2 separate regions of the Homo sapiens genome follow, and region 2 is linked to region 1. The links come from fine-mapping of genetic effects on gene expression. A gene starts in region 1. The other region holds a variant in brackets. All regions are shown on one strand. Distances are from middle to middle.

Region 1 (15,434 bases):
AAGGCTAACTTATTCTTTTTTTTTTTTCTGAGACGAAGTCTTGCTCCATGGCACAGGCTGGAGTGCAGTGGCGGGATCTCGGCTCACTGCAACCTCCATCTCCCAGGTTCAAGTGATTCTCCTGCCTCAGCCTCCCAAGTAGCTGGGATTACAGGGGTGTGCCACCACACCTGGCTAATTTTTGTATTTTTAGTAGAGACAGGGTTTCACCATGTTGCCCAGGCTGGCCTCGAACTCCTGACCTCAGGTGATCCGTCCACCTTGGTCTCCCTAAATGCTGGGATTACAGGTGTGAGCCACTGTGCCCAGCCCAGACTAACTTATTCTTAAGACAGTGAAGGCTGAAGTTTGTAGTTCAGTCTGCACTGGACCTCCCTCAGGTCTCTGAACTCTTTGCCACATGTGGCTGAAACATTATTTAGCAAGAGGCATCCCCCACTCTGTGTTGTGTGGCCTCTTCAGCAAAGAGGTGCCTGACAGTCCCCTCTGAATAATGACATAGTTTTCTCTAACAACCAGAATTTGTCTTTCAAAGATGTTTATGCTAATCTCAGCTGTAAGATCTCAGACAGTCCTAAGAGAAAGGCATGTTGAATCCATCCATTACCTATCCCCACAATCTTCTAGGGTTCCAGGGCTTTCATCCTGAGTGAAACCTACACTGCTTGTTCCCTTTTTTCATTATTTAGTGTGAGTGAAGCCAAAACTCAGTCATTCTCCGAGGTGGAGAAATTTCATACAGATTTTGATGTCTGATATTCTATCTGCTTGCACTGTTAAATTTCTCAAATATGTATATTTGTTTTCTCAGCAAAATCGTAAATTTATTGGGGAAATGAGGAATCATAGTTCATCTTTCCATGGGAAGGAGCCAGCTGCCCTGGGATCTCAGCAGCTTCACTGGTGAAGAGGGTGGGAACACTGTCCCCCTGAGCAGAGGCTGCGGCTACAAGGCTTGTTGGTGACAAGGACAAGGATAAGTCAAGACTTCCATAAACTTGAAGCAAGGAGGTGAACAGGAAGCTCCTGGTGAATTTCCTATTCACATCTTCAAAACTTTTATTGGCCAAGTGCAGTGGCTCACACCTTTAATCCTAGCACTTTGGGAGACTGAGGCAGGAAGATCTTTTGAGGCCAGAAGTTCTACAGCAGCCTGGGCAACCATGTGAAGCTCCATCTCTACGAAAAATAAAAATAAAATAAAAATTAGCCGACTGGTATGGCATGCATCTGTGGTCTCAGATACTTGGGGGGTTGATGCAGGAGGATTACCTGAGCCCAGGAGTTTGAGGGTGCAGTGAGCTGTGATCACTCCCCTGCCCTCCAGCCTGGGTGACAGAGCCAGACCCTGTCTCAGAAAAGAAAAACCAAACTTTTTTATTGGGGCTTGATATTACTTGGAATAAAGAAGCCACAACAATATCATCACTCTGTTATTATCTAGACTATCAGCATACTAGCGATATGAATCATAACAAAACTATAATACGATTTTATCTATAGAGTCACACATTGAAACAATTGGGAGTAACCTTATCAAAGGAAACAGATAACTGATAATGATCACACTTGTGAATAATTTCACAAAGAATGTGGTGACTTCATTCACCAAGGATTTCTGGAATCCTGAATTCCAGGTCAGTGGTAAAGCCTCAGAGGACAGAGGGAGGAAAAGGATTGAGTCATACCAAGGCATTTTTTAATTATTCCAAAGGTCATTCTCAAGTTAAAAAAATCACAACATCATTGTTATTATGATGGTATTCCTGAAAATCAAGAGATTCTAATTCACACAAGATATTCCATCATTTGACAGCTGTCACCAAGGGTAAAATTTTTTTTTAAATTATTCAGTTGAAATAATTAAAGTTTGGTTGAAAAAGTCAAGATGTTATATGGGGGTCAGTTCAGCCCTATATTTTCTAAGTACGTCAATCTGAAGTTTCAGGCACAAAGAATAGACATCCAAAGAAATTCAACTTGCAGCCAGGTGTGGTGGCTCACACCTGTCATTCCAGCAATTTGGGAGGCTGAGGTGGGAGGTTGCTTGAGGCCAGGATTTTGAGACCAGCCTGGGCAACATATCCATTGATGCTGTCTTATCCCGGTGATGATCTGAGGGGAGCTAGCTGCAGTATTATAGAAAAATGACATCTTTAAAAAATGACTATCTTTCATATGAGATCCTCAAAAATGCTCTATGGCCAAGAATTGTCTCTGTTCTCTATTGCTACTTGTCTGAAGATGTGCCTCTTCAGCTTTTACCCTTTAATCCAGAAAAGGCAAACCTCATCCCTGAGAAAGACCTTATATTCCTTTTCACTTACTCAAGAAAAAGAAGAAAATTTTTCTGTCCTCTGTCCAGGAAAAATGTAACTGATCTTCAATGCAATTTGAGCTTTTCTCTGTTTCCAAGTAGATATTTTTTATTTGCCATCATTATGCCCCATTTATGGGTCTCATCATCTCAAATGTGAAATTTCCCACTGCTGGGCATCTGATCTCATTTTAACCTTCTCTCTTACCTTCTCTGGCCTTTGAAGAGTGACTAATGTACTAGGACTCCAAAATAACCAACCTCGGAGAGTAGCTATCAAGTTATTTTTCTGAGGCTCGCAGGATCATTTAACATTACTATTACTGTGTTTCTGGAAGACATTTATAATTATGTTATACTGTTTATAAAATGGTTAGCATTCTGGGAAACAAAGCTTTTAGCTTTCCATAATGAAAGCAGCTCTATTGAATAAGCATTGCAAAGTGGCAGAGAGCACCGTTCATAAATGAAGTTACTCTGCTTCTTTATTTGTCTGTGAAATGACAGAAGAAATAACCTCACCAGTTGACTGTAAGGACCACAGGACACGTTTAGAGCCCTTCTGGAAATGTGGGAGGTACTAAGTGTTAGCCGTGGTTCCCAGCCCTGGAATTCATCTCTCTAAGGCAGCTGTGTGGGGTAGAGAGAATACTGCACTTCTGAACACAGCATGTGAGTTTCAGTGCAAATCCTGGGTCTTCGCCACTGTTTTGGTAAGAATTTATTTCAGTGTCTTTGAATGCAAGTGTGGATTAACATCACCTGCCTTAGCTATACAGCAGGGTAGCTGTGAGAATCATAACACAATAATGTAATATGAGGCCGGGCGTGGTGGCTCACGTGGTGGCTTACGCTGGGGCTGTAATCCCAGCACTTTGGGAGGCCGAGGCTGGCAGATCACCTGGGGCCAGGAGATTGAGACCAGCCCGGCCAACGTGGTGAAACTCTGTCTCTACTAAAAATACAAAAATTAGCCAGGCATGGTGGCACACGCCTGTAGTCTCAGCTACTTGGGAGGCTGAGGCAGGAGAATCACTTGAACGTGGGAGGTTGCAGTGAGCCGAGATTGTGCCACTGCCCACCAGCCTGGGTGACAGAGCAAGACTGTGTCTCAACAAAAAAGGAATGTATTATGAAAGTGGTGTGTAAAATGAAACTCTTTAGGGAGTTATTATTATACTTTGTCTTTTACAGTTGGTTCCCTGGTTTTGAACCTGCCTTGGCAAAAACTATAACAGGAAATGATGACAGTGAAAGAGATCTGATCCAACCAACCCCCATTTTGCTTTTAGCTTCCAAGCTGCCCATAGTTATTCCTGGGTTTGGGCCAAGCTAACTTTGGGAGAGACTTAGTTTACAGTTTCAATGATAACAGCCCTTTCCCCAAACTAAAGCACCTTTGTAAAGCTAATGAAAGACAATCAGGTTAGGAGACTGATAGGAAGCTGAGTTCTGCTAGGGTGTAGACAGAAATGGTTACCAGCCATTGTTCCGGAGGCCACAAGATGTACAACTTCCCCAATCACTCCTGCAAATAGCATCGTATCATAGAATTTAAGATTGCCCTTTTGAGATGCCTTTTTCAGGTTTTTGCATTTCTGATGACTGACCAATGGCTTCACCTGGACCCACCAACCAGTCCTGGGGCCACACCCAGAAGCAGACTCAGTGCTCACAATGACCATTCCCCACACCCCTATGATTGCACCCCCAACCAATCAGCAGCACCCGTTCCCTTGATTGCCAAACTATCCTTGAAAAATCCTAGCCTCCAAATTTTCAGGGAGGCTGATATGAATAATGATAAAACCCTGGTTTCCCATTCAGCCAGCTCTATGTGGGTAAAACTCTTCCTCCATTACAATTCCCCTGCCTTGATAAATTGGCTGCATCTGGGCAGCAGGCAAGAAGAACCCACTGAGAGGTTACAGTTTCATTCCTCAGGTCTATTAATCAGGTTTTCCAGAGAAACAGAACCAATTGGTGTGTATATAAAAGAAGATTAGGAGGAATGGGCTTACAAGATGATGGTGTTTGTGAAGTCCCACGATCTGCCATTTGCAAACTGAGACCCAAGAAAGCTGGTGGTGTAACTCAGGCTGAAGGCCTGAGAACCAGGGGGCCAATGGGGCTAAGTCCCAGTCCAAGGGCAAAAAAAGATGAGATGAGATCACCCAGCTCAACAGTGAGGCAGAAAAACAAAAGGAGGCGAACTCCTGTCTCTCTGTTTTGTTCCATTCGGGCCCTCAATGGATAGCATTTAAAAGACAGAAACCCCTAAATTATGAATTTCAGAGATTATATAGGAACTACATCATAGCTGCCCCCATCCCTTCTAGAGACTTGGAGAGAAACCCTAAACCTTAACGTTTTTTTTTTTTTTTTTTTTTTTGAGATGCAGTCTTGCTCTGTCACCCAGGCTGGAGTGCAATGGCACGATCTCAGCTCACTGCAACCTCTGCCTCCCAGGTTCAAGTGATTCTCCTGCCTCAGTCTCCCGAGTAGATGGGATTACAGGCATGTGCCACAACATCTGGCTAACCTTTTTTGTATTTTTAGTAGAGAACGGGGTTTCACCATGTTGGCCAGGCTGGTCTCAAACTCCTGACCTCAGGTGATCAACCCGCCTTGGCCTCCGAAAGTGTTGGGATTACAGGCATGAGCCACTGCGCCCAGCCAGAAATCCTAACTTTCTAATGGAAACAAATTGTCATAGGGAAGAGAATGGGAAGGCCCTATGTGTTACAGCAAATGCCAGTGCAGATCAATGAATGCAAAGGCACAGCTCCAAGAGAGATAAACCCGCAAATCTCTCCAGAGTAATTCACGATCTGTTTTCCAAAATGATTAATATTCCCTCATCCTTTAATCCAGTGTTAAATTAAGTTTAGCCTAAAGCGGCCTCCTTGTAAATTTGGCCTAAAGGTTTCTCCCACATAGGGAACTATAACGGGATGTACAAACAGACTGGTAACTGCCCTTACCAATCACCGAGTTCTGGCCAATCAAAGGGGCCAACTGTTTAAACTGCCTTCAAGTGAGAGAAATGGTAAGCAGTAGGCAATTTGGCTATCTCTGGACCTCACGTCACTTTCCTTTGCCTCTGACATGGTGGCAGTGCCGGAGTCTCCCTCAGCCTATTCTGGTTCAGGCAGTAGGGTAGGAGCACCTGGCACTGATAACTTGACCGTACTCTGAGAATGACCCTGTAGGGCGGGCACACCTGAATGTGTATTCAGAGTTCCATGCTAGGGAATCTGGGAGTAGCCCACCCCGAGATCCATTCCTTTTCTATGAAAAACATTTGATCCCCCACCCTGGCCCATGGAACACAGGTCGTACAGGGGATTGAGACCCTTTGTTTTGGGTTAAATGAAGGTTGCCAGGTGGAATTTGTTAGAGGGAGGGTGTAAAATGAAAATGCTATCTAAACTGCATGCATTTTGCAAGGATTTGCAGTTTTCCTGCTTGGCCCACTGCCACTGGACTCTCTCCCCTGTATGTAAGCCCCCAATAAAACCCACGTCTCCTTCGCTGGTGCGGGATCTCGTCTTTGGCCTCTTGTACCTGGTGCCATCCCTACTGAGATTAATAGGGGTCTGGCATGACAAAGGGGGCTGCCCGATTCGAGAATTGTTCTTTGCTCAATTAAACTGTTACATTTGTCTAGAGTTTTTAATACTAGGTTGCCAGTAACTTTTGCTCAGGAAACTGAGCTACACAGAAACATGAAAACATTCATGTTGTTGGCCAGGCGCGGTGGCTCACACCTGTAATCCCAGCACTTTGGGAGGCCGAGGCGGGCGGATCACGAGGTCAGGAGTTCAAGACCAGCCTGGCCAACATGGTGAAACCCCATCTCTACTAAAAATACAAAAATTAGACGGGCATGGTGGCGTGTGCCTGTAATCCCAGCTACTTGGGAGGCTGAGGCAGAAGAACCTCTTGAACCCAGGAGGCGGAGGATGCAGTGAGCCAGGAGCGCGCCACTGTACTCCAGCCTGGCGACAGAGCGAGACTGCGTCTCAAAAAAAAAAAAAAAAAAATTCATATTGTTTCCTGACAGCAAGTGGAGTCAAAAGAACTTGCCTGGATTTGGGGGTGAGGTTGACAGATGTTTGTAGGGTGACCCTGAGGTTTCTGGCCAAGGAAACTATATGGTGAGGCCATTTATTGGGATAGTACATAGGCAAAAACTAGGAGAACTGGTTTCCCTGATTTGCGGAGGAGTAGGGAATTCACGGGACAACATGAAGATAATAAATAGAGTTTTAGGTGCTTGAGGATGCTCAGTCTGCAGTTTGAACTCAGTGGCAGGCCTGGGATGCAGATACGGACGTGGGAGTCCCAAACAGGCAGTGATGTGAAATTGCTCGGGCAAGATGGCAGGAATAACCTGGACCTTGGGAAGAGGACGGACGGTAGAGCCAAGACATGTTGACACAGTGTGTCCACCTTCGGTTTTTCAACAGGCCATTGTGAACAGGAAGAGAGAAATCTGTTAGGCACTGCTGCCCAACTTGACATGCTATTTCACATAAATGCTTCCCCAACTGCAAATCTGGGGTATAGCTGTTAATCGACCCCAGAAACAAAGAGAAAAGTGAATAATTCCCTGAGGTACCCAATGGAAGGTGCTACCAGGCTGTAAAGTAGCTTCAATGTTTCTAAAGCAGTGGTCTACAAGCCTGTGTATGAGAATCAGCTAGGGAGAGTTTTTGTTTGTTTGTTTTGTTTTTAAACCAGTTTCACCTACAGAGATCCTAATTCAATCAGTCTGTGGTGGGGCCCAAATGCTTTAATATTTTTTTTCCAGCTCCCAGGGGATGCTAACATGTATCCATGGTTTGGATCCATGTCCCCGCCAAATCTCATGTTGAAATGTGATCCCCAGTGTTGGAGGTGGGCCTGGTGGGAGGGGCTTGGATCACAGGGGTACCTCTCATGAATGGCTTGGTGCTGTTCCCTTGCTGATGAGTGAGTCCACGTGAGATCTGGTTTAAAACTATGGCACCTCTCTTGCTCCCACTCTGGCCATGTGTGATGCCTGCTCCTGCTCTGCCTTCTGCCATGATTGTAAACTCCCTGAGGCCTCCCCAAGTAGATGCTGGTGCCATGCTTCCTGTACAGCCTGCAGAACCATAGCCAGTTAAACCTGTTTTCTTTATAAATCACCCAGCCTCAGGTATTCCTTTACAGCAACACAGGAATGGCCTAACACCCCAGGTTTGAGCAACACTGTTCTATAGTTACATGCACATTATCTTATTACCATAGAGCAACTCAATTCAAGAATTCAAGAACGGCTGCCATGTTTTACAGAGGTATTGCTTTCAGTAGCAAATTATGGTGATTGGGGACTTACCCTAACATTATTGCCTTGTAGACAGTGTCCTAACACATGTTTCCAGACAAATCTTTAAGAAGGCTGCACCTTCACAGAGCTCACTGGCTATCTTCAGACACCAGGCAAAACATCCCCTTTGAGCAAAGGAGATATTACTCAGCTGAAGCTTGCAGAAAGCAGTACGATGGGGCCGGGCACCATGGCTCACGCCTGTAATCCCAGCACTTTGGGAGACCGAGGTGGGCAGATTACTTGAGGCCAGGAGTTCGAGACTTGCCTGGCCAACATGGTTGTATTAGGGTTCTCTAGAGGGATATAACTAATGGAATATATATATTATATATAATAATATATATATATACACACACACACATGCACATACATATATACACACATATGTATATATAAAGGGGAGTTTATTATTAACTCACATGATCATAAGGTCCCACAATAGGCCGTCTGCAGTCTGAGGAGCAAGGAGAGCCAGTCCGAGTTCCAAAACTGAAGAACTTGGAGCCTGATGTTCGAGGGCAGGAAGCATCCAGCACGGGAGAAAGATGGAGGCTGGGAGGCTAGGACAGTCTCTGTTTTCACATTTTTCTGCCTGCTTTGTATTCTAGCTGTGCTGGCAGCTGATTAGGTGGTGACCACCCAGATTAAGAGTGGGTCTGCCTCTCCCAGCCCACTGACTCAAATGTTAATCTCCTTTGGCAACACCCTCACAGACACGCCCAGGATCAATACTTTGTATCCTTCAATCCAATCAAATTGACATTCAGTAGTAACTATCAAAATGGTGAAACCCCATCTCTACTAAAAACACAAAAGTTAGCCATGGTAGTACATGCCTGTAGTCCCAGTTACTAGGGAGGCAGAGGCAGGAGAACTTCTTGAACCCAGGAGGCAGAGGTTTCAGTGAGCCAAGGTAGCGCCACTGCACTCCAGCCTGGGTGAAAGAGTAAGACTCTGTCTCAAAAAAACAAACAAACAAAAGTAATAGAATGGGGAAAAAGAGATGCCACTGTTTTGTCTACCATTTTCCTTAAAAAGTAGCTGAGAAGCAGCTGATATAGCCCCAAAATGACCATTGTCACACTAGAGCAACAAGATTAGGGAACTGTAAGATACTAGTAATAGTTCAGAGAAATAAACTGTTTTTGTAATTTACAACTTACAAAAACTTTGATATGTATTGTCTCACTTGAATTCAACTCACCCAGAGGTGAGGAGAGCAAATACCCCCAACCTCTTGCTAAAGCATCAGAAGTGAGTCACCTGTCTGTTGGTCAGAGCCAGGCCTGACACCCAGAGCTTCTTCTCCAAATCCTAGATTTTAATAATTAGCATGGTTTACTTATGCCTTAGACCCTCATTATGGAGTGCTGAATGCATACTGTAGACAGATAGCAGAGGGTGCCAGTGAGGTGAGATGGGGCAGCAGCATGCAGAGGTGGCTGCACACTGGGCCGAGTGTCAGGAGATGAGGCCCACCTCTGTGTGGTCACCCATTGCATATGTGGAAAGGTCAACACAACACTTGTGACTTCAGCCTTCAATTTCCTCTGCTGTGAGACCACCAAGCCTCTTTCAGGTTCTTCTATTCCTGCCCATCCTGTTAAGGTGCAAAAGCCTAGCAATGCGAGAATTATGAGCCACTTTGAAGGTACCAAAATACCAACCTGAAACAACTCACAATGGCTGCGAAGAATGGAAAAAACATTTGCCAGGTATTTTAGTGTATATTTACAATTACAGCTTTGAAAATCATTTTTTTTTTTTGGCGGGGAGGAGAAGACTTGCAATTTCTATTTCGCCTGGAGTTTAGCTGGCTTTCTCCCTGATCTATGAGAGCAACTGCCTTTCTCCTTGTCACTGCCTTCTCCTGTTTGAAGGACCATGACAACCATCATGCCCTTTTCAAGTTCTCTGTGATGTCATAAAAGTCCCCAAGACATAATTGCAACTTGCTTTAACTATGGTGTCAATGCAGCAAACAAGAAATCGTGGAATATCAATATGGTTGAAAAATCACCCCCCATTTCTAACTTTACTCATTTTTATGAGGTCCTCTAGGTCTAAACACCTGCATAAGCGATGTCTGTGAGAGGGTGAACACAAGAAATCACACTGAGTTTGTCATGCTTGTGGCCTACGTACCATTCTGTGGCTTTCTGGTTTCCTTCCTTTTTGGTTTTGGTTTCATTTTCTTGGGTGCGATGCCTCTTTGTTTTTGCATTTGTCTGTGCTAGTTTATCCTAAATAAAGTTCCAAATGCACAGGGTCACTATCACTTAAATGATGTTGTGTATCCCCTGGCAGAGCTTAGGGCACACACTTTCTTTTCTTTTCTTTTCTTTTTTTTTTTTTTGAGACGGAGCTTCGCTCTTGTTGCCCAGGCTGGAGTGCAGTGGCGTGATCTCGGCTCACCGCAACCTCTGCCTCCCGGGCTCAAGCAATTCTCCTGCCTCAGCCTCCCGAGTAGCTAGGATTACAGGCACCCACCACCACACCCAGCTAATTTTTGTATTTTTAGTGGAGACAGGGTTTCACCATGTTGCCCAGGCTGGTCTTGAACTCCTGACCTTAAGAGATCCACTCACCTCAGCCTCCCAAAGTGCTGGGATTACAGGCCTGAGCTGCCACGCCCAGCCTTATGTATTTCATTATACAGATTATTATGTATTCCATTTGTAAGTTCTGTCCTATGCATCCTTTATCAGGGACATTTATAATTTAAGTGCATTCATTTCCAGAGAGCTGGCTGTTTAAGCCGTGCACCACTGTTTCTAGCTGGGTGACCTCAATTACTTAACCACTAAGCCTCAACTTCAGTGCAAAACAAAGAAGAATAAACATTCCTTCCTTGAAAGATTTTGAGGATTGAATGCAATGATTGTTTCCAATACATTGTTTCCAGGTAGAGACTCCAGGAACCTCAGTCCCCTTCTCTCCACCCACCTCACCTTGGGGAGAGACCCAGTGGCAGATTCACCCCTGTGCACGCCCACCCCTACTTTCCCAGAGTGGCCCTGTGTGTCTGGACTAAACCGTTACAGGTGGGGAAAACTCACCACTAGGGGGCGGGAGCAAGATGCCTTTGATGGCTGTCGTCCTTCAGACCACGTAACTGATTTGGAATACTGTGACATATTCACCCTTCCACCCTCCGTGGGGAGAGAGAGGATAAATGTGTAAAGTCTGTGGCCACGGTGCTGCATTCAGAGAATCCCACTCTAGTGATCAGCGTTGGCATCCTGAGAAAATGAGAACCACTGAGCCCCAGTTAGGACAACTGTTAAAATGTGATAAAAATCTTCAGCCGACCCAGTTGCCCTTCTGCAAACCCACCTGCTTGTTGTCCTCGGCACACGGCATGCTGTGACTGCTGCTGGCTGCTTAATACATCGGGGCCCATCCAGGTGAGTCTCACCTAAGGAGGAGTCAGCAAAGCAGTCTTCTCCACCCCCATCTTCCTGCCAGATCTCTCAGGATCAGCGCTTACAGTTAATGTGCTACCCGACTTTCCCAGGTAACATGCATTAAATGAGGCTCTTCTAGAAACTGACGTTTTAAGGAGGTGATTCCATTGGCGGCAACCTTAGAGCCGCAAAGGACTGGGGTCAATGACAGCAGAGAGGTCTTCCGGGACTTCCTCCCTCGTCCCTCCTCATCTAGGTCTGGCCCTGGATTTTCCTGGAGGAGCAACTTCCTTATTCTTTTCAGGGGAGCTGACCAACGCCTTCTCCCTGGAGTCTTAGCCAGGTCTGCAAGGATGCCCCTGCCACTTACTGGTGAGATGTCCACTCCCGCGCAAAGGGCGTCTCACTCCTTAGGCCCCCAGGCTCCCATCTGGCTAGCTGTCCCACTGTCAAGGACTTGCTCAACTATTTTCCCCCTTAAAAGCCAAACAGGCAACACCACCACTTGAGAATGAAAATCATCAAAACCACTGTGATTAGTTCTTTGCCTGCATGGAATTCACAAATACTGATTTTGTTGACTGTAAACATAGCTGGCTTAATTTATTTCTGCCAGTTATGTCCCAACACCTCCATTAATGATTTTATTTTGATGAATAGTTTTATACATCTGGGAGGATTCTGGTCATTCTAATGATATCTTCTTGAAGCTCTTCCAAGATGGATCAATACTGACCATAAAACATCAGATTCTTGTTAAGTGCAGACATCCCTCTTTACCTGAAACACATCAAAATGTTATTTGGTGTTCTTGAACAAAACTACAGACAAAGGTGGATTTTTATAGATTTTAACCCTAGAGGAAATTCCTAGGTGTCTAGGTGGTGGGTCTCCAAATACAAGTCTGACAACTGCGTTGCAGACTGCCACCAAGGAAACAATGACAAAGACTTTTTTTTTTTTTTTTTTTTTTTTTTTTTTTTTTTTTGAGACAGGATCTGCTCTCTTACCCAGGTTGGAGTGCAGCAGTACCATCCTCCCACCTCAGCCTCTCAAGTAGTGGGGACTACAGGCATGAGCCACTATAACCAGGTAATTAAAAAAATTTTTTTCACAGAGATGGGCTGAAGTGATCCTGAGCTCAAGTGATCCTCCTCCTTTGGCCTCCCAAAGTGCTGGGATTACAGGTGTGAGTCACCATGCTTGGCCTGACAAAGTCTTAATAACAACTTTGAAACAGATAATGACTCAGAATGAATTCAAATGACCACAAAGACAGTTTTCCTTTTCTTCAGAGTTTATTTTGAATTTTCATTTTTGGATAACCAAGCAGCTCTTTAAGAAGAATGCACAGAAGAGTCATTCTGGCACTTTTGGATAGTACATAAGATTTTCTTTTTTTTTTTTAAATTTTTTTTAATAGTCACATTCAGCTCGCTTGCTCAAACCAGACTCCCACATTGGGTGAGCAAGATGAGCCCATAGGATTCCAGAGTTAATACGTAACCGTATATACAAACAGCCAAAAAACCATAATGGTGCCACAGGGATGGAGCAGGGAAGGGCATCTCTAACGTGTCCTCTAGTCTATCTTCGCTAAACAGAACCCACGTTACACATGATAACTAGAGAGCACACTGTGTTGAAACGAGGATGCTGACCCCAAATGGCACTTGGCAGCATGCAGTTTAAAGCAAAAGAGACATCCTTTAATAACTGTATAAAATCCAGGCAGTTCCATTAAAGGGGTTAAGAAAACCAACAACAACAAAAAGCGAGGGACTGTCTGTTGTCACTGTCAAAAAGGCACTTGGAGTTAATGGGACCAGGATTGGAGGACTCTTAGCTGATACAGATTTCAGTACGATTTCATTAAAAGGCTTGGATGTTAAGAGAGGACACTCAGCGGTTCCTGAAGGGAGACGCTGAGATGGACCGCTGAGAAGCGGAACAGATGAACACAAAGGAATCAAATCTTTACAACCAAATTGCATTTAAGCGACAACAAAAAAAGGCAAACCCCAAAACGCAACCTAACCAAAGCAAAATCTAAGCAAAATCAGACAACGAAGCAGCGATGCATAGCTTTCCTTTGAGAGAACGCATACCTTGAGACGCTACGTGCCAACCTAAGTTCTCAACGACAGCTTCACAGTAGGATTATTGTGATAAAAATGACTCAAGCGATGCAAAAAGTTTCATCTGTTCCCAGAATCCGAGGGAGAACTGAGGTGATCGTTAGAGCATAGCGACATCACGTGCGGTTTCTTAATGTCCCTGGTGGCGGATACGCCGAGTCCTCGGAAGGACATCTGGACACCACTTTCAGCCACCTCCTTGCAGGGGCGACATCCGCCAAAGTCATCCTTTATTCCGAGTAATAACTTTAATTCCTTTCTAACATTTACACGGCAAACAGGAATGCAGTAAACGTCCACGTCCGTCCCACGGCTGGGCTGCCGTTCCGTTTCCTCCACGAACGGGTACGCGCTTCCATGAGAAAGGATATTTGGCAATTTTATATTCCACAGTCAGGTGGGTCTGCGATAGCTCATTTAATGTTAAACGCCATCAGGGGCCTCTCCTCCCGTTTCTGCCAGGGGCTTTTCTTGTCTTCTCCTTGGTCATCATCATCATCGTCTTCCTCTTCCTCGTGGGCAGATCTTCTCTGGTGGGGGCTGGCTGCTGGCTCCGAGGGGGCATCCGCAGTCCGTCTGGTCGTCTCCTCCTGCAGGCTGGGCAGCTGGCCACCACTTCTCCGACTCGACCCCTCCAACAAGCATCGCAGGGCACTGTCCTCGGGGGTACAGACCGTGGTCCCACATTCGCTACCACTCTGTTCCACGTCATCCAGGTACACGAGCTGCGTGTAGGCCGTGCTGTCTGGGGCTCGAGGCTCTTTCTGCTGGTGCTCTTGGACGGGCGGGTAGTTCTGCTGCAGAGACAAAGCATCTCCCCTTCCCTTCCGGGCTGATTTTGGTTCATTCATATCTACGCCAGAGTCCAAACTGGCATCATTACTTCCGTTCCTTCCAGCTCTTTGGAGATCAATGTATGAATGTCTAACGTGAGCGTTGGACCTGCCATCCAAGGAGACGAACCACGCCCGGGGGTGCGGAAGCGGCTTCCCACCCCCAAGCTCCATCAGGGCCTTTTCAGTCAGGAGCTGCACCTCACTGTTCATCTGAGCCAAAGCCGCGTCGTTCAGGGAAGCTGGGATGGAGAGAGACTCCGACATGGATGCGTTCTGAGGGCTCCACTCCCGGGTGCCCGCATCCTGCAGGTGCTGCTGAGAGATGGCCTGGGAAGACAGGGGCTGGGGCTGGATCTGTGAGGACGGGTGTGGGAAGATCCCGGCATGGGGATTGGACAGCTCAGCCTGTAGTCTTTCTATCTCAAGCTGCTGATCAGCCGGGACGACGAGGGGCTGGCTGACATAGGAGTGGTCCCCGGGGAGTTTCATATAATGAGCCGGGATGACCAAGGCAGGCAGTACTTTCCTGTAAACGCTGTCATTGACCTGGTCGACAGAACTGCAGCAGATTAACTGGCCGGGCCGTGGGAAGGACGTAGGTCTCTCGAGGTGATCTACTGATCGCGACATCATACATTCAGTGGGTCTGCGGTCCAGCAGCTGTTCTTTCTCAGGTGATGAAGGCGCGGGGTACAGATGTTCCTGAATGGTGAGTTTGCTTCCCGTGGAGGCTGGACCTTCTCTGTCCTGCTTTTCAAATAAAGGCTGTGAGAGCACGGTGTTGTAACTACCCCTGTAGTCATCATTGCCCGAGGACTCGTAGCCTTCTCTTTCCATAGATTTTCTTGCCTTTAAGGGAAAAACCTCCACTGACTTATGGTAGTCTTTCCCCAGCGTCCCACTTGGAGTGAGGTTATCAAAGGAGATCTGGCTTTTATCCTCTTCCTTGCAAGAGAGGAGCTCCTCCCGGGAGCTAAATTCCTGGGAGGTGCTGTAGGAGAGCTTGAGCATGGGGGTGTGCAGGTCCCCTTCGCCGCCCGGAGACATCATTTCCAAATGGACTCCACTCATCAGTTCCTTCGTGCCGGGGGCCTCGGGGCGGCCGTGGCTGGTGACGGACAGCGGGCCAGGGAATTCTGACGCTCGGCGTGAAAACAGCAAGTTAATGTGTGACATGGACGTGGACTGGTCTCTTTTGGAACTCTCCAGTCCTGCAGGGAGCTGCAGTTTTCTGTGGTGCTGACGAGGTTTCAAGCACTTCCTCCTGCGCCCAAAGACACAATCCAAAGCCAAAGATTAGTGATTCTCACAATGAAAAAGTTTCAAGTTTCAGGTAAAATCCTAATTCTCAATTTCCATGGGGAGAGACAAAACAAA
Region 2 (15,434 bases), 35 kb after region 1:
CAGGAGAATCGCTTGAACCAGGGAGTCAGAGGTTGCAGTGAGCTGAGATAGTGCCACTGCACTCCAGCCTGGTGACAGAGCAAGACTCCGTCTCACCAAAAAAAAAAAAGAACCACGACATCAAAAATGTGATACATGGCTGGAGTGTACTAGGTGCTTTACGTAAATGATCACACTTAGGTCTTATGCAACCTTGGAAGGGAGATTTTACAGATCTCATATTTGAGGCCAGAAGCATTAGGTCCAGAGACATTAGTAATTTGCCCAAGGACGGGCCCTCTCCTAACATTTACAGAACTTGAGAAGTTTCAGGCGTGATGAAGGCACAAAACTACATTCGAAAGGAAAAAAAAAACATACAAAGTGTTGATCTTCTTTTAAAAAATCATGTGTTAAGTGAGTGCTAACATAAAAGAGATTATAGCTCATACAAAAGTATAAAACCAAAACAAACTTACGAAAGAAACAAGAAACAAAGCTACAGTTTCAAAATAAATTTCGAATTAAAAACATCAACTTAATGGTGTACCTGATGACATATTGTTACCCGTTGAGGGTAGCTGCCCAGGTTCTTGGCGTTTTGAACAAAGAATTGGACAAAACGCACAAGCAAAGCAGCCAAAGCAGAAATTTATTTTAAACGAGAGTACACTCCACAGACTGGCAGAGGCTACAGCAAGAGGCTCGGGAACATTGGTTACAGAATGTTCTGAGGTTTAAATACCCTATAGCAGTTTCGTATTGGCTCACTCTAGTAGCCCATGAGCAGTCTCTTTGGTTACGGGAGGGGAAAAGTAGCCTAGCGACCAGTCTGATTGGCTGCAGGAGGGGACCGATCAGATGTACTTTTCTTTTTTTTTTTTTGAGACGGAGTCTTGCTCTGTCGCCCAGGCTGAAGTGCAGTGGCGCGATCTTGGCTCACTGCAAGCTCTGCCTCTGGGGTTCACGCCATTCTCTTGCCTCTGCCTCCCGAGTAGCTGGGACTACAGGCACCCACCACCACGCCCGGCTAATTTTTATTTATTTTTTGTATTTTTAGTAGAGACGGGGTTTCACTGTGTTAGCCAGGATGGTCTCGATCTCCTGACCTCGTGATCCGCCTGCCTCGGCCCCCCAGAGTGCTGGGATTACAGGCGTGAGCCACCGTGCCGGGCCGATCAGAGGTACTTTTCATTTTCCAACTGCCAGGCAGAAAAAGGAGGGGTTAAAAAGTAGCCCCTATGCCGGGCGTGGTGTCTCACGCCTGTAATCTCTGCACTTTGGGAGGTCCAGGAGGGCCGATTACCTGAGGACAGGAGTTTGAGATCGGCCTGGCCAATATGGCCAAACCTCGTCTCTACTAAAAATACAAAAATTAGCTGGGCAGGCGCCTACAATACCAGCTACTTGGGAGGCTGAGACAGGAGAATCGCTTGAACCTGGGAGGCAGAGGTTGCAGTGGGCCGAGATTGCGCCACTGCACTCCAGCCTGGGAGACAGAGCGAGACTCTGTCTCAAAAAAAAAAAAAAAAAAAAAAAAAAAACCTCTGATATCCAGTCAGCTGAGTCGGCCTTAGGTTCTCTACCTTCAGACCCAATTCTCCTGCCTCAATATTACTGAACTGAACTTGTCACTTGCAACATACATACACATGACATCCATGGCTAGGTGGGGCTTCTTTCGAGCTTGGCATGACTATGATTCAATTCTTCCACTACCTTTCTCAAACTGAACTGTAAAACTTCCCATCTCTCAACATACTTTAATTCCACCTGTCCTTATTATGCTGGTGTTGTATCATTTGTATATTACATTTACCATGGTTCATTCTCATTTGTCCTATTCTATCCAACAGTGTGTTCATAAATGCAGACTCAGGCAATAACATTATGTGATCGTTTTAAATTCTGTATTGAATTCAGATGATGCAGAATATTTTCATGTTAAGTTGTAAAAGATCATGATCAAACCCCAAACTCCAAATTTGAAAATCCTTGCAGATGATTCCCAGGCCTCAAAGAAGCGGTCTGGATCTACAGGCTTCAGTGGGAAACGCTGAATCTCACTGGGGAAACCTTGGATACCTGGAACCTTCATCTCTCCCCAGTACCCATCCTCGGGGTCCTCACCTACAAGGTGAGGATAACACAGGTTGCTGGAAAGAGCCACGGTGTTCAGCCAGGAGATAGGAGTGAGCAGAGCCAGGGAGCACATTAGGCTCACACACTAGACGAACACTCGCTTTGGACATCAGAGACTTACGTTCCTGCTGTACCCAAATTAAAAGGCACCACTTATTGTGAACTTTAAAGTTATTTGGAAGTTCAATCCCAAACAATGATGTTTCCAAATATGGAACAGCTGGTCAGGTATGGGCCCCGACCAATCAGACTGGATGGCAGGGCCATTCCAGCTAAATAGCAACCTTGGGTGAGACTGGGATGTTAAATTTAAAAACAGTAAGGCTTTCCTGTACCTGTCCTTTTATATCATGCTTCCAAAAAAAAAAAAAAAATCACACACTGCATATGGGCTAAATAATAGCAGCGATGATGATGATAAGAGCGGCAAACACATACGGAGGGTTTTCCAAGCGCCAGGCTCTGTGGTAGGCACTCTCCACTCACAGCAATTCTATGAGGGAGGGGCTGGGGCTATTATGATCCCCATTTTATAGAGGAGAAAACTGAAGCCCAGAGACGAAAAAGGACTTGCTCAAGACCACACAACGAGTCACCAGAGGAGGAGCCGGCATTCAAGACCAAGCCGTCTCGGTGGCTGGGCTGCACACTGCCTCTATCCTGTTCACGAATGCTATCAGCTGTGTCTCATCCAGTGCAATATTCACATCTATCAATAATATTCTACCTTCTAATTACCCACTCAAGTGGAGGCAACTGAAACCAGGTGATACTTAAAAGTACTGAATTCTGAAATATAGTGGCTTTACTTTCCTAGTTCTTTTTCACCCAGGTTAATATTAGAATGATTGTGTTAGATGCTGTCCTTAAAATCCAGGCCAGACTGGGCGTGGTGGCTCACTGCCTGTAATCCCAGCACTTTGGGAGGCTGAGGCAGGAGGATCACTTGAGGCCAGAAGTTTGAGACCACGCTGGCCAACATGGTGATACCCCCATCTCCACTAAAAATACAAAAATATGCTGGGTGTGGTGGCACTTGCCTGTAGTCCTAGCTACTTGGGAGGCTGAGGCAGGAGAACCGCTTGAACCTGGGAGGCAGAGTGAGACTCTGACTTGAAAAAGAAAATCCAGGCCAAATAGCAGCAAACTAAGAGGGCCTTGAGGCTCCTGGGTGATGGGGAAAGCCCGCAGGAAGACACAAATTTGCCACAGATAATCCACAAAGTGAATACTCCATAAGTGGTAACTAAGAATGAAGTGTAAAATAAAACCTCTACAACTCCAAGATCACAAAAGCAGGCTATACCAAGACGGGAAATTCTAGTTCTACATAAAATGATACGTTAAGAGACCTAAGTCCCTAAGAATGGGGTTTTTAAACAAAAGTGCCCCCTGAACCCGATCATACTAGAACAAATGTGATGCTATTATTTTATGAAAGTTCTCATTTTGGGGGGAGACAAACACAAAAGGCTTAATGATTCCTAGGAATGGATTGATAATACAAGATTGTTTTTTGAGTTGCTAGGCAACACTGAAAAACAAATGTCGATGTTCTGAGATCACAGCTTGGTTGTTCTCCCATGGGCAGGACCAGTGCTACCCGGCCTTCCTGCACTCCATTGGAGAACAGGAGTGGTACAGAGCCACTGCGATGCTGAGTCCACAGTGGCAACAGACACCAACTGGCATCTCCATGAAAAGTCACAACTGACCGCCTGGCTGCCAAGATCTTTGGTGAGACAAAGTTTTCACTGAACTGTCATCACACCCAAACAAGTCCCATGCTCTCCGGGTTCTTTGCTATCTGTGATCACTTCAATCGCTTTTTTTTTTTGCAGGTACATTACCCCCTTTTCCCCTACCGGTCTCATTAAAGCCCCATTCACCCCTAAGAGTGATTTTGACATCTGGGAAAGTACAGACACTTTTCCTGAGAGTTATTTCTTTATTTCTAAGCCATAGCCTTGACTCTGAATATTTCCACTGTAAAAAGGCCTATTTCCAATAACAGCTTTCTTAGGGATATGTTGATATTACCTTAGGTAAGTTGAATTCCTCCTTTGCTGAATGCCCTGAACTACGGCATCTATTCTTTTTCAAAAAATAAAAGATGATGCCCAAGGTTCTAAAATCACGTCACACATCTACGCACAGACTTGGTAAAGAAATGAACTCCCTTCTTTCATTCTAATGTTTGGGGGCACAGTGTAGTACTGTTTATCCCTATAATCCAATCACCCACCTCAGTATTCCAATCTGGGTTACTTCACCTAGTCATGTGGCTTGTGATATATAGAGACAAAGATAAGCTAATATTGTAATAATGATTTCACTGAAGACTATTTTTTAAAGAGCAGATTTAGGTTCGCGGCAAAACTGAAAGGAAGGTGCAGATATCCCACATACAGCCCAGACTCCCTCTTGATCAATATCCCCTACCAGAGAGGTGCCTTCGCTACAATTGATGAGCCTGCATTCACATGACATTATCACCCAAAGCTCATCATTTCCATGTTCAATAATAGTTTCATTTTCTTTACGTTGTAAACATAATTTTGTGCTTTAAGAACTCCCACTCTTTGCCGCCCTTCCCCCCCACCCCCAATTAAAAACCCAATGAACCTGAAAAACAATCTTAGATCTGTGTTTTAAATGAGTCTCCACCTTCAAGGGCAAGTTGTCCGTCACTTAGGTAAAAGGACTAATTAAATGAGCTTGTCATAGCCGTAACATTCACCGTCTGAAGTGCAGACGAATCTACTACAGGCCAATTGTGAGTGGGTATTCCTGAGAGCCTGACACGAATGCATCGTACGTGGTAAGAGGCTGGTTCAGTAACCACCATTTCTATAGCAACCCCCACACACTCTCAGGCTGTGTTTTGAAGAGGCAGTGAAAACTGGATTCTACAATGTAGCTTCACTCTTAGAATATGCTTTTATTTCTATCATCTCATTAGAATGAGAGTATCCAAATCATATAATCCAGGTTGCCATTAAACAGGAGAAACTTATCAAATACAGGATCCGTAAATCTTTATTTATTCTTTTTGCCACTTGATGTCCATCGCTTTAAATTCAAACCACTGACCTGGTTTGCCTGTGACCATTCCCCAGGGCAACAAGTCAGATGTCCGTCTGACAACCTGTACATCAGACAGCCATCTGCTGCCCCAGTTACAGGATAAAGAAAGGGTAAACGTCTGTAAAATAGAGCTGACATAATCATCTCTTACTGTCCAGAAAGGCTCAGCTAAGAGGCATTCGCTATGACTAACAAAACTTCCTTTGACAGACATGGGAAGGAAAACTGCTTCTTTCAAAGGTCAAATTGGCCACTGCACAATAAATATTCACTTTATTTATTTATTTATTTTTATTTTTATTTTTTTTTGAGACAGTCTCACTCTGTCGCCCAGGCTGGAGTGCAATGGTACAATCCTGGCTCACTGCAACCTCCACTTCCCAGGTTCAAGGGATTCTCAGCCTCCCAAGAAGCTGGGATTAGAGGCACCCACCACCACACCCGGCTCCAGCTAATTTTTGTATTTTTAGTAGAGATGGGGTTTCACTATGTTGACCAGGCTGGCCTCAAACTCTTGACCTCAAGTGATCTGCCCACCTTGGCCTCCCAAAGTGCTGGGATTACAGGTGTAAGCCACTGTGCCTGGCTACAAATTCATTTTAACCCATTCCCCTCACATACATCTTGACACCCGGGACACAGAGAG[G/A]GCACAATTGGATCATTACATATTCCGCTGATTCTTTAAGGAAAAGAGATCCACTAAATAGAGTGCTCCTTCGCTCTACGAATCACAGCATTTTAACAAAATAGCTTTAACAAAACATGTCAATGTGACAAAAGTCTCGATTCCAGTATGGGTGGAATATCCTTTATCCAAGATGCTTGGGACCAGAAGTGTTTTGGATTTTGGAATATTTGCATTATACTTACCTGCTGAACATACTTAATCTGAAAATCCAAAATCCAAAATGCTCCAGTGAGCATTGCCTTTGGGCATGACCTTTGAGTATCATGATGGACCTTAAAAAGTTTTGGATTTTGGGGCATTTCAAACCTTGGATTTTTGGATTTGAGATGCTCAACTTATATATGCAAGTCGTGCTTCTTAAAAAATTTATTTTAGGCTGGGCGTGGTAGCTCATGCCTGTAATCCCAGCACTTTGGGAGGCCGAGGCAGAGGCGGATCACTTGAGGTCGGGAGTTCGAGACCAGCCTGGTCAACATGGTGAAACCCCATCTCTACTAAAAATACAAAAATTAGCCTGGTGTGGTGGCACACACCTGTAGTCCCAGCTAGCTGGGAGGCTGAGGCCAGAGAATCACTTGAACCCAGGAGGCAGAGGTTGCGGTGAGCTGAGATTGTGCTACTGTACTCCAGCCTGGGTGACAGAGCGAGACACCATCTCACACACACACACATAAAATTATTTTTATTGAGGGTCCATATAGCAATTAGCCAACTCATGCTGTTGTAACATGCTAAACAAATTCAATGTTATTTGTATTCTAAGATGGTGTTAATCTAGTTGATCACCTTCTAATGAATATATAGGTTGAAATATGAAGATGCCAATTTCAAGAATGGGAAATTCTTTGCTTGTTCCAAAAGAAAAAAATTAAAAGACAACTGTGAAAAACGGCAGCATCAAAAATTGATCCCACTCTCACGGGGTTTGAAAGAGAGCATCTCTAGTTCTCTCTCCTAAGAGTAAACTTTCAATTTCCTGGCAGTCAAGGATTAAAGTGTGTGAGTTAGAGTTAAAACATGGATATACTGAGTTAGTGTTAAAACGTGATTTTGAGGCAGGGTGGTGGCTCACAGTCGTTGTAATCCCAGTGACTTGGGAGGCTGAGTTGGGAGGATCACTTGAGGGCAGGAGTCTGAGACCAGTCTGGGCAACACAGCAAGACCCTATCTCTACAAAAAAAAAATTTACAAATTAGCTGGGCATGCTGGCACACACCTGTCGTACCAGCTACTCAGGAAGCTGAGGTAGGAGGATCTCCTGAGCCCAGGAGTTCTAGCTCCGATTGTACCATTGCACTGCAGCCTGGGTGACAGAGCAGGACCCCTTCTTTAAACAAACAAACAAACAAACAAACAAACACAAACAAACAAAAACTACCATGTGATTGTATCATTTGAACAGAAGTCCCATCAAACCATAAAATAATTTCATCTTTCTTTACAGAGTTTGAGGTCTGGCCCTACAATGAAGGTGCTGTCACTCTGAGTATCAGTTGTCAACTCTGGCAAAATACAGGGGAGCTGTCAGCTAACAGGAAATATGGACATTGGGGCTGTCTGGGCACCCCAGTTTGCTCCTGTAGAGTGTGGAATACACTGGCACTGTAATATTAGAATGGAAAGAACTTCTGGAAGGCATTTAGACCAGAGGTCACAATTTTTTTTAAATTTTTTTATTTTTTTCTGTAAGAGGACAGATAGTAAATATTTTTGGTTTGTGGGGATATAAGTTTCTGTTGCAATGATTCAACCCTGCGTTGTAGTGCAAAAGCACTCACAGACAATATGCCAGCAGATGGGCCTGGCAAGGTTCCAGTGAAACTTTATTTAGGGATGCTTACGTATAAATTTCATGTAATTTTCGACCCATGAGATATTCTCCTTTTGATTCATTTCCCCCATATTTATTGACGTACAGTTGAAAAACAAAAATTTTATGTACTTAAGATGTCTGACCTGATGTTTTGATATATACATCAAGCTAATTAACATATCCATCACTTTACAGTTACCATTGTTTTTTCATCTTCTTTCTCTTGGTGGTGAGAACACTTTGAATCCACCCTCTTAGTAAATTTTAAGTATACAGTACAGTCCTATTAACAACAGTTAGCAGGCTTTGCATTAAGTCTCTGGAGCTTAATCATCCTGAAGAACTAAAACTTTGTACCCCTTGATCAACATTCCCCCATTTGATTTTTTTCTTTAATCATTTAAAAATGTAAAAATGATTCTTAGCTTTCAGGCCACAGTTGGCCAAACCCAATTTAGATGAAAAATTATTAATAGATTCACAAGTTGCTATCTGTGCCATTTCTGGCTGTTAAACAATTTGGAATTGGCAGTTATTTTGATTTACCTCAAAAATAGATAATTTAAAGTATTAAACTATTTGAGATGATCGATTACTGTAATCATAAATAGCAGCTAATTATTAAATTGTTTTATGTGCTTAAGATGTGTTGGCCCATTCCCCATTTTTTTCCTGATCTAATACCGTCTTTAGATTTTTTATTTAACTAAAATATTTTAATTTCTACTTAGATAATATTACAATTAATGTAATAGCAACAAAAGTCTTATGAAATATGCAGGCTTCTATTGAGTATAATAAGTGAAAAAACATATGGTTTCTTTGAAATGTCCATCTTAAAGTTTTCAGAAAACATTTTAATTCATTTGGTTATTTTTGAATGACTATCCACAAACGTTGGCTTTTTTCTGCATACATGCAATCTGTTACAACCAGGAATTTGGCAGTTACATTTTTCATAGTAAATGTGAAGTTAAAAAGACCATTTCGGCCGGGCGCGTTGGCTCACGCCTATAATCCCAGCTCTTTGGGAGGCTGAGATGGATCACTTGAGGCCAGGAATTTGAGACCAGCCCGGGCAACATGGTGAGACCTTGTGTCTACGGAAAATAAACAATAAAACAAATTAGCCAGGTGTGGTGGTGTGTGCCTGTCGTCCCAGCTACTCAGGGGGCTGAGGTGGGAGGATTGCTTGAGCTTGGGAGGTCGAGGCTGCAGTGATCTGTGACTGCACCACTGCATGCCAGTCTGGCTGACAGTGCAGGACTCCGTCTCAAAAAAAAAAGGAAGCGGAAATAGGTCAACTTCACAATGAAGATTCCCAATGTACTGTCATGGTTATTTTTTCAGAGAGGAAACAGAGAATGGGCTAACTTATATTTCAGAGGCTTCCTAACAATGCACACACCTCTGTTTTCACCAATTTCTGTATTGTATTCATTTCCTATTGCTGCTATAAAAAACATTACCACAAATAATAGGGTCTTAAAACAGCACAGATTTACTTTCTTATACTCCTGGAGGTCAGAGGTCCAAAACCAGTTTCTCTGGTCTCAAGTCAAGGAGTCCACAGGGCCGGTTTCTCCTGGAGGCTCAGAAGGGAGAATCCCTTGCTTGCTGATTTTGGCTTCCAGTGGGTGCCTGTATTCCTTGGCTTGGGTCCCCTTCTCGCATTTCCAAAGTGCATGGCTCCGGCCTGCGCTCCCATCCTCACACTGCCGTCTCCTAATCTGATTCTGGCTCCTCTTGCATCCTGCTCATAAGGGCCCTTGTGATGGCCGTGGGCCCACCCAGAAAGTCCATGAGAATCACCCCATCTCCAGATTCTTCATCACTTCCACCAAGTCCCTTGACCGTATAAGGTAATATCCACAGGGCCTGGAGATTAGGATGCAGAGATAGTTCCATCTGCCATGGACATCAAAAACTTCTTTAAGTTTGTTATTTGTGAACTGTATATAAAGTCCACCGAGGAAAGCAAGGATGCTGCTTTCATACACCTGTGCCATATAGTTACAGTGCACACAACCCATACAGGAATCCCTAGGGAAGGCTTCCTTATATTAGGAGCCCCAGCCTTATTCCTCCATATTCAAATATACTCATTAAAAAAGAGAAGGCAAAAATGAGAAGCAAAAAATAAACAGCAGGGATGGAGGCTCCAAGATAGAAAAAAAATCCAATAGAACTGTCCTCCCTCTAAACAAGAGCTTAAACATCATCCTTTTATAACGTGTACATATACATATATACATAAAGGTAAATTCTATGTATACAGTCAATGTATACATTGACTGAGCAGCTCACCGCAAGCTCTGCCTCCCGGGTTTACTTACGCCATTCTCCTGTCTCAGCCTCCTGAGTAGCTGGGACTACAGGCGCCCGCCACCACACCCGGCTAATTTTTTGTATTTTTAGTAGAGACGAGGTTTCACCGTGTTAGCCAGGATGGTCTTGATCTCCTAACCTCGTGATCTGCCCACCTTGGCCTCCCAAAGTGCTGGGATTACAGGCATATCAGAGTATCTTAAATTGCCTTTTAAAGATATCTAAATTGGCTAGACATGGTAGCTCACGCCTGTCATCCCACGACTGTGGGAAGCTGAGGTGGGTGGATCACTTGAGCTCAGGAGTTCGAGACCACCTAGGCAACATAGTGAAACCCCATCTTTACTAAAAAAATACAAAAATTAGCCTGGGGTGGTGGTGGGCACCTGTAATCCCAGCTACTTGGGAGGCTGAGGCACTAGAATCACTTGAACCTGGGAGGCGGAGGTTGTAGTGAGCTGAGATCTTGCCACAGCACGCCAGCTTGGGCGACAGAGTGAGACTCCGTCTCAAAAAAGCCCCCCAAATTAGCTAGGCCTGGTGACCACCCTTGTACTCCCAGTTCTTCAGGGGGCTGAGGTGGGAGGATTGCTTCAGCTCTTGAGATAGAGACTGTAGTGAGCTATGATCACACCATTGCACTCTAGCCTGGGTGACAGAGGGAGACCCTGTCTCTTAAAAACAAAAGAAAACAAAAAACCCTAAAATTATTCTCATGTGATTCAACCATTCAACAGACATTTTAGTTGGGTACCTAGCATTATGCCAGAAACTGTTATTGATCACAAGCATTCAGAATAAATAGACTTGGTGAGGGCATAGGGAGTAACTGGTACCCACACAGACTTGGTGAAGGTGCAGGGAGTGGCTGGTACCTGCACAGACTCGGTGAGGGTGCAGGGAGTAACAGGTCCCCGCACAGACTCAGGGAGGGCACAGGGAGTAACTGGCACCCGCATACCGTGCCGTTCAAGCTGATAGGACCATTGCAACGTGCACAATGTGCTCAGGATGAGGCCGGGGAGGAGACTGGAAAGGATCGGCTGTGCTCGTGAAAGTGACAAGCTGTCATTTACTTTTGTGATGACTAATTTTGTCTGACAACATGGCTAGGCCACAGTCCCCAGAAATGTGGTTAAATATGTCCAGATGTGACTGGGGAGGTATTTTGTTTAGAAGAGATAAACTGTTCAGCCAGTTGACTTTGCTTTTTTTTTTCTTATTTATTTATTTATTTTTTGAGACGGTGTCTCACTCTGTCATCCAAGCTGGAGTGTGGGGACGCTATCTTGGCCCACCTCAACCTCCACATCCTGGGTTTAAGTGATTCTCCTGCCTCAGCCTCTGGCGTAGCTGGGATTATAGGCATGCACCACCACGCCCAGCTAATTTTTTGTATTTTTAGTAAAGATGGGGTTTCACCATATTGGCTAGGCTGGTCTCAAACTCTTGACCTCAGGTGATCTGCCTGTCTTGGCCTCCCAAAGTGCTGGTATTACAGGCATGAGCCATGGTGCCCGGCCCAATCTGTTGACTTTGAGTGAAGCAGATCACTCTCCACAGTGAGGGAGGGCCTCATCTCATCAGCCTGCCTTGCAATTTTGGACTTGCCAGCCTTCCCAATTGTGTGAGCCATTCCTTAAAATCAATCTCTCCAAATATACATATATCTCCTATTGGCTCTGTTTCTTTAGAGAATCCTAATACACTCATTATAACAACAGTGGGTACTATTATTATTGCCATTTCACAGTGGAAGAAACTAGATCAGAAAGGCTAAGTAACTTGGCCAGGGCCACACAGCCAGTGGGTGGCAGAGCTGGCATTCCACACCACTGTGCCCCCCAGACTCCCTGCTCTTAACCACACTCTCCGCTGCTTCTCAGTGCATTGACCTGGGTGCGCTTCAGCGCCCCCTGGGAGGGCTACAGGGGACAGGCAGACCATACAAGGGGGTGTATATTCATATCTCTTACAAATGCAAATAGAGGTAAGTAATTTGCCCAAGGTGGGACTCACAGTTTTATAAGTAGCAGAACCCAGGTTTTCAGGAAACAAAACACAAACTCAAAGCTCTTTCCATTCTCTTGCCCACTTCCTCTGTGTTTTTCTTTATCCATTTTCTTCCTCCCTTTAGAATTCCGGCATTCTTCAGAGACTCTTGGTCACACATCCCTCAGGCTACTCCCTCCTGGAGGCACAGTGTACCTCAGGTCCCCACCATGACCTTGATGCCCCCCAAATTATCAGGCTCACAGAGAACACACACCATCAATAAAGTGCCCGTCTCGCTTACTGCAGGATATGTGAACAGATTATCAGGCTCTCAGAGAACACACACCATCAATGAAGTGCCCGTCTTGCTTACTGCAGGATATGTGAACAGACAGCATCACAATCCACTTAACAATATCAAGTTTACTGTGGCTGGTAAAATCAATGCATTCCACACAAATAATTACAGTGTCTCTATTAATTATTTGGAAAGTAAAAATAAGACAAAACAAAAATCCCCTCCAAAAGCCCAACAGGCGTTTCTTTTAAAATATAATTCCTAGAACTCTGTTTTAACTGATTCGAGGAATTAGATATCTTTGAAAATATACTGATATCAAAAATCTCCCAATTATCTTCATGCATGGTCTAACAGTTTTAAATTCTGAACTGGCTTATTTGAAAACTGGTATTTTCTTTTTTCGAGACAGTCTTGCTCTGTCATCCAGGCTGGAGTGCAGTGATGCGATCTTGGCTCACTGCAACCTCTGCCTCCCAGGTTCAAGGGATCCTCCCAACTTAGCCTCCCAAGTAGCTGGGACTATGGACATGTACCACCACAGCTGGCTAATTTTTTGTATTTTTAGTAGAGATAGGGTTTCACCATGTTGGCCAGGTTGGTCTCAAACTCCTGACCACAAGTGATCTGCCCGCCTTGCCTCCCAAAGTGCTGGGATTATAGGTGTGAGCCACCGTGCCCAGCAGCAAATTGATATTTTCAAGCTTGACTTTCAGGGCACTAGGAAGCAAAGGGGGGTAAGAGGCCCCACGCTGCCAAGACCCTCAGCCCGAGCACATGCTCGTGGGCTGGTATCATGAGTGCAAACCAATACAACTGTCTGGAGGGAAATCTGGAAATATGTTTTAAAAGTTTTAGAATTTTGTACATTTTGTAACTCAGCAATTCTTCTAAAATGTCATCCTAAGGAAATAACCAAGGCTGTGCATAAAGATTTAGCTAGAAAGATATTTTCTACAGCATTGGTTAGAATAGTAACATTTTTTTCTAATTGCAGGGGATTGATGAACCAAAGTGAAGTATGATATATCCACAGGGTGGAATACTATGGACTTATTAAAATTGACATGGCAGAATAATGATGCTATGGAAAGATGTTCATGCTGTACAAATGTATTTTTATGTATATATTATTGGTTGATTGAGTGAGTGAGTGGTCTCGTTCTGTTGCCTAGGAGGTGCAGTGGCTCGATCATAGCGACATCACTCACTGTGACTTTGAATTCCTGGGCTCAAGCAATCCTCCCGCCTCAGCCTCCCAAAGTGTTGGGATTTCAGGTGTGAGCCACTGCACCCAAACAGTACCCAGCACATGATCTCATTTCTGCTAAATATGCTTTGTAGAAGGCAACCTCTCAGATAGCCAGCCCCAAGTGACCCCTGCCTCCTGGTATTCACTCCCCTGTATAGTCTACTCTCAGTGCTGGTCTATACCAGTGTGGGTCTGTGTGACCAACAGCCTAATGGAAAGAAATGATGGTATGCTGCTTTTGGGATTAGGTTACAAAAGACCATGACCTCAATCTGGGCACTTGGGCTTTTAAAAGGCTGGTCTCAGACTCTTGGCCTCAAGTGAACCACCCGCCTCAGCCTCCCAAAGTGCTGGGATTACAGGTGTCAGCCACCACACCCAGCCTACTATATCATTTTTATTTACTCTTGGATCATTTGCTCAGGGGAAAGCAAACTACCGTGTAGTAAGCAGCTCTATGGAGGGTCCCACGTGGTAAGGAGGTAAGGCCTCTGGTCAACAGCCGGCAAGGAAGTGAGGTCTGCCTTCAGCCCTGTGAGTCACACTCATTAGCCCCAGCTGAACACTGCTGGAGAGGACCACAGCCTTGACTCACAGCTTGACAGCCGCCTTGTAAGAGACTCTGAGCCCTACCACCCAGCTCGGCTGTACCTGGATTCCTGACCCCCAGAAACTCTGAGATACTGGAGCTCACTGTTGTTTTAAGCAGCTAACTTTTAGGGTGGTGTTACACAGCAGTTGATAACTAATACCTACGTGCACTGTGAAAGCCCTAGAAGGACAGAATTCAAGATATATTAGTGGTTTTCTCTAGGTGGTGAGACTTATGGGTAATTTTTATTTTCTTTGTTTTGTACAGTTTTGGCAAATGTTTGTCCTTTTTCAGAAAACAGAAAAAAAAAATACCACACATGACCAAGAGCAACCATATGACCTTCTGATGAATAAAAGGATGAAGATTAGGAGAGCCAGTTTTAGCTCTAATAACCTTTACAGATTCTTTTCAAGTAAATTAGGTTAAATGTGCAAAACAAAAACAAATATGAAAACTAACAAAAAATGAGTTCCCAAGAGAGGGTCTGAATGGCACGGGGAAGGGTGCCGTCCCCATGAGAAACCACACAATGCAATGTGAGCAGCAGCATTCACTGACTTCAAGGAAAGGAGACTTCCATGAGCTTCTTAGAAGGAAAACCAAACAGTAACGAAGCCATCTGGTAGCCGATTGTCGGCACAGAACTCTTGCTTACCCAGCTTCTGGTCAAACCGCCACGCCGCGACATAGGCATTGTGCCTCAGGCTGCTCTGCGTGGCCAGGGGCACAGTGACATAGATGGGACCATCCACCAGCACCGGCGTTCCATTACTGCTCAGCAAGTGGACGCTGACGGCTGTGACTGGGGTCAGGTCATGCCTGGTGCTGTTTCCTAGAAGGAAGAGGCATTTTCCATCATTTGCATGCAAAGTACCCATGTGGGGCTGTGGAAACCTTTGCAAAAAAATAGTCGCAGCTACCATTACCTCCTATATGCCAGGGACTGCATGAAGCACTTTACATACATAATCCTCACCACAACCCAGTAAGGCAGGTAAAATCGTCATTTTTACACACAAAGAAACAGGCTCAGAGAGAGTAGTAATGGTAGGTGGCCTAAGGGCATACACTCAGTATGGGCTGAGCTGGAATCTAGGCTCAGGTTTTCTTTTTTCTTTTTTTTTTTTTTTTGAGATGAAGTCTCATTCCGTTGCCCAGGCTGGAGTGCGATGGCACAATCTCAGCTCACTGTAACCTCCACCTCCTGGGTTCAAGCGATCCTCCTGCCTCAGCCTCCCAAGTAGCCGGTATTACAGG

Alleles and levels. Alleles are on the strand shown, and positions count from the first base shown. SD is a standard deviation of normalised expression in the study named.
For the expression in spinal cord of the gene that starts at base 9,307 in region 1, allele G in region 2 goes with a higher level than allele A (moderate effect, 0.52 SD a copy in GTEx).

What was found.
Region 2: its variant is fine-mapped to the expression of FAM171A1-AS1 in spinal cord (GTEx, PIP above 0.99). The same link has a PIP of 0.9 or more in cerebellar hemisphere.

The regions. Positions count from the first base shown.
Region 1 is chr10:15,199,281-15,214,714 of GRCh38, forward strand. FAM171A1-AS1 (FAM171A1 antisense RNA 1) reads left to right here and starts at 9,307. Exons shown (of 3, transcript XR_007062068.1): 1 at 9,307-9,391. FAM171A1 (family with sequence similarity 171 member A1) reads right to left here. Exons shown (of 8, transcript NM_001010924.2): 8 at 12,363-15,321. The coding sequence ends at 13,635. LOC105376434 (a long non-coding RNA gene) reads right to left here and starts at 8,120. Exons shown (of 4, transcript XR_930699.2): 1 at 8,096-8,120. LOC107984211 (a long non-coding RNA gene) reads right to left here and starts at 12,057. Exons shown (of 3, transcript XR_001747379.2): 1 at 11,013-12,057; 2 at 10,736-10,918; 3 at 8,977-9,919. RefSeq lists an enhancer at 1,090-2,289 and a silencer at 10,786-10,835.
Region 2 is chr10:15,233,807-15,249,240 of GRCh38, forward strand. FAM171A1 (family with sequence similarity 171 member A1) reads right to left here. Exons shown (of 8, transcript NM_001010924.2): 5 at 14,833-15,009. FAM171A1-AS1 (FAM171A1 antisense RNA 1) reads left to right here. Exons shown (of 3, transcript XR_007062068.1): 2 at 3,713-3,858; 3 at 7,341-7,433. Among named protein-coding and RNA genes, the nearest start is that of FAM171A1-AS1, 33 kb to the left of the region's middle. RefSeq lists an enhancer at 14,424-14,925. The variant G/A (reference allele first, on the strand shown) is at 5,855.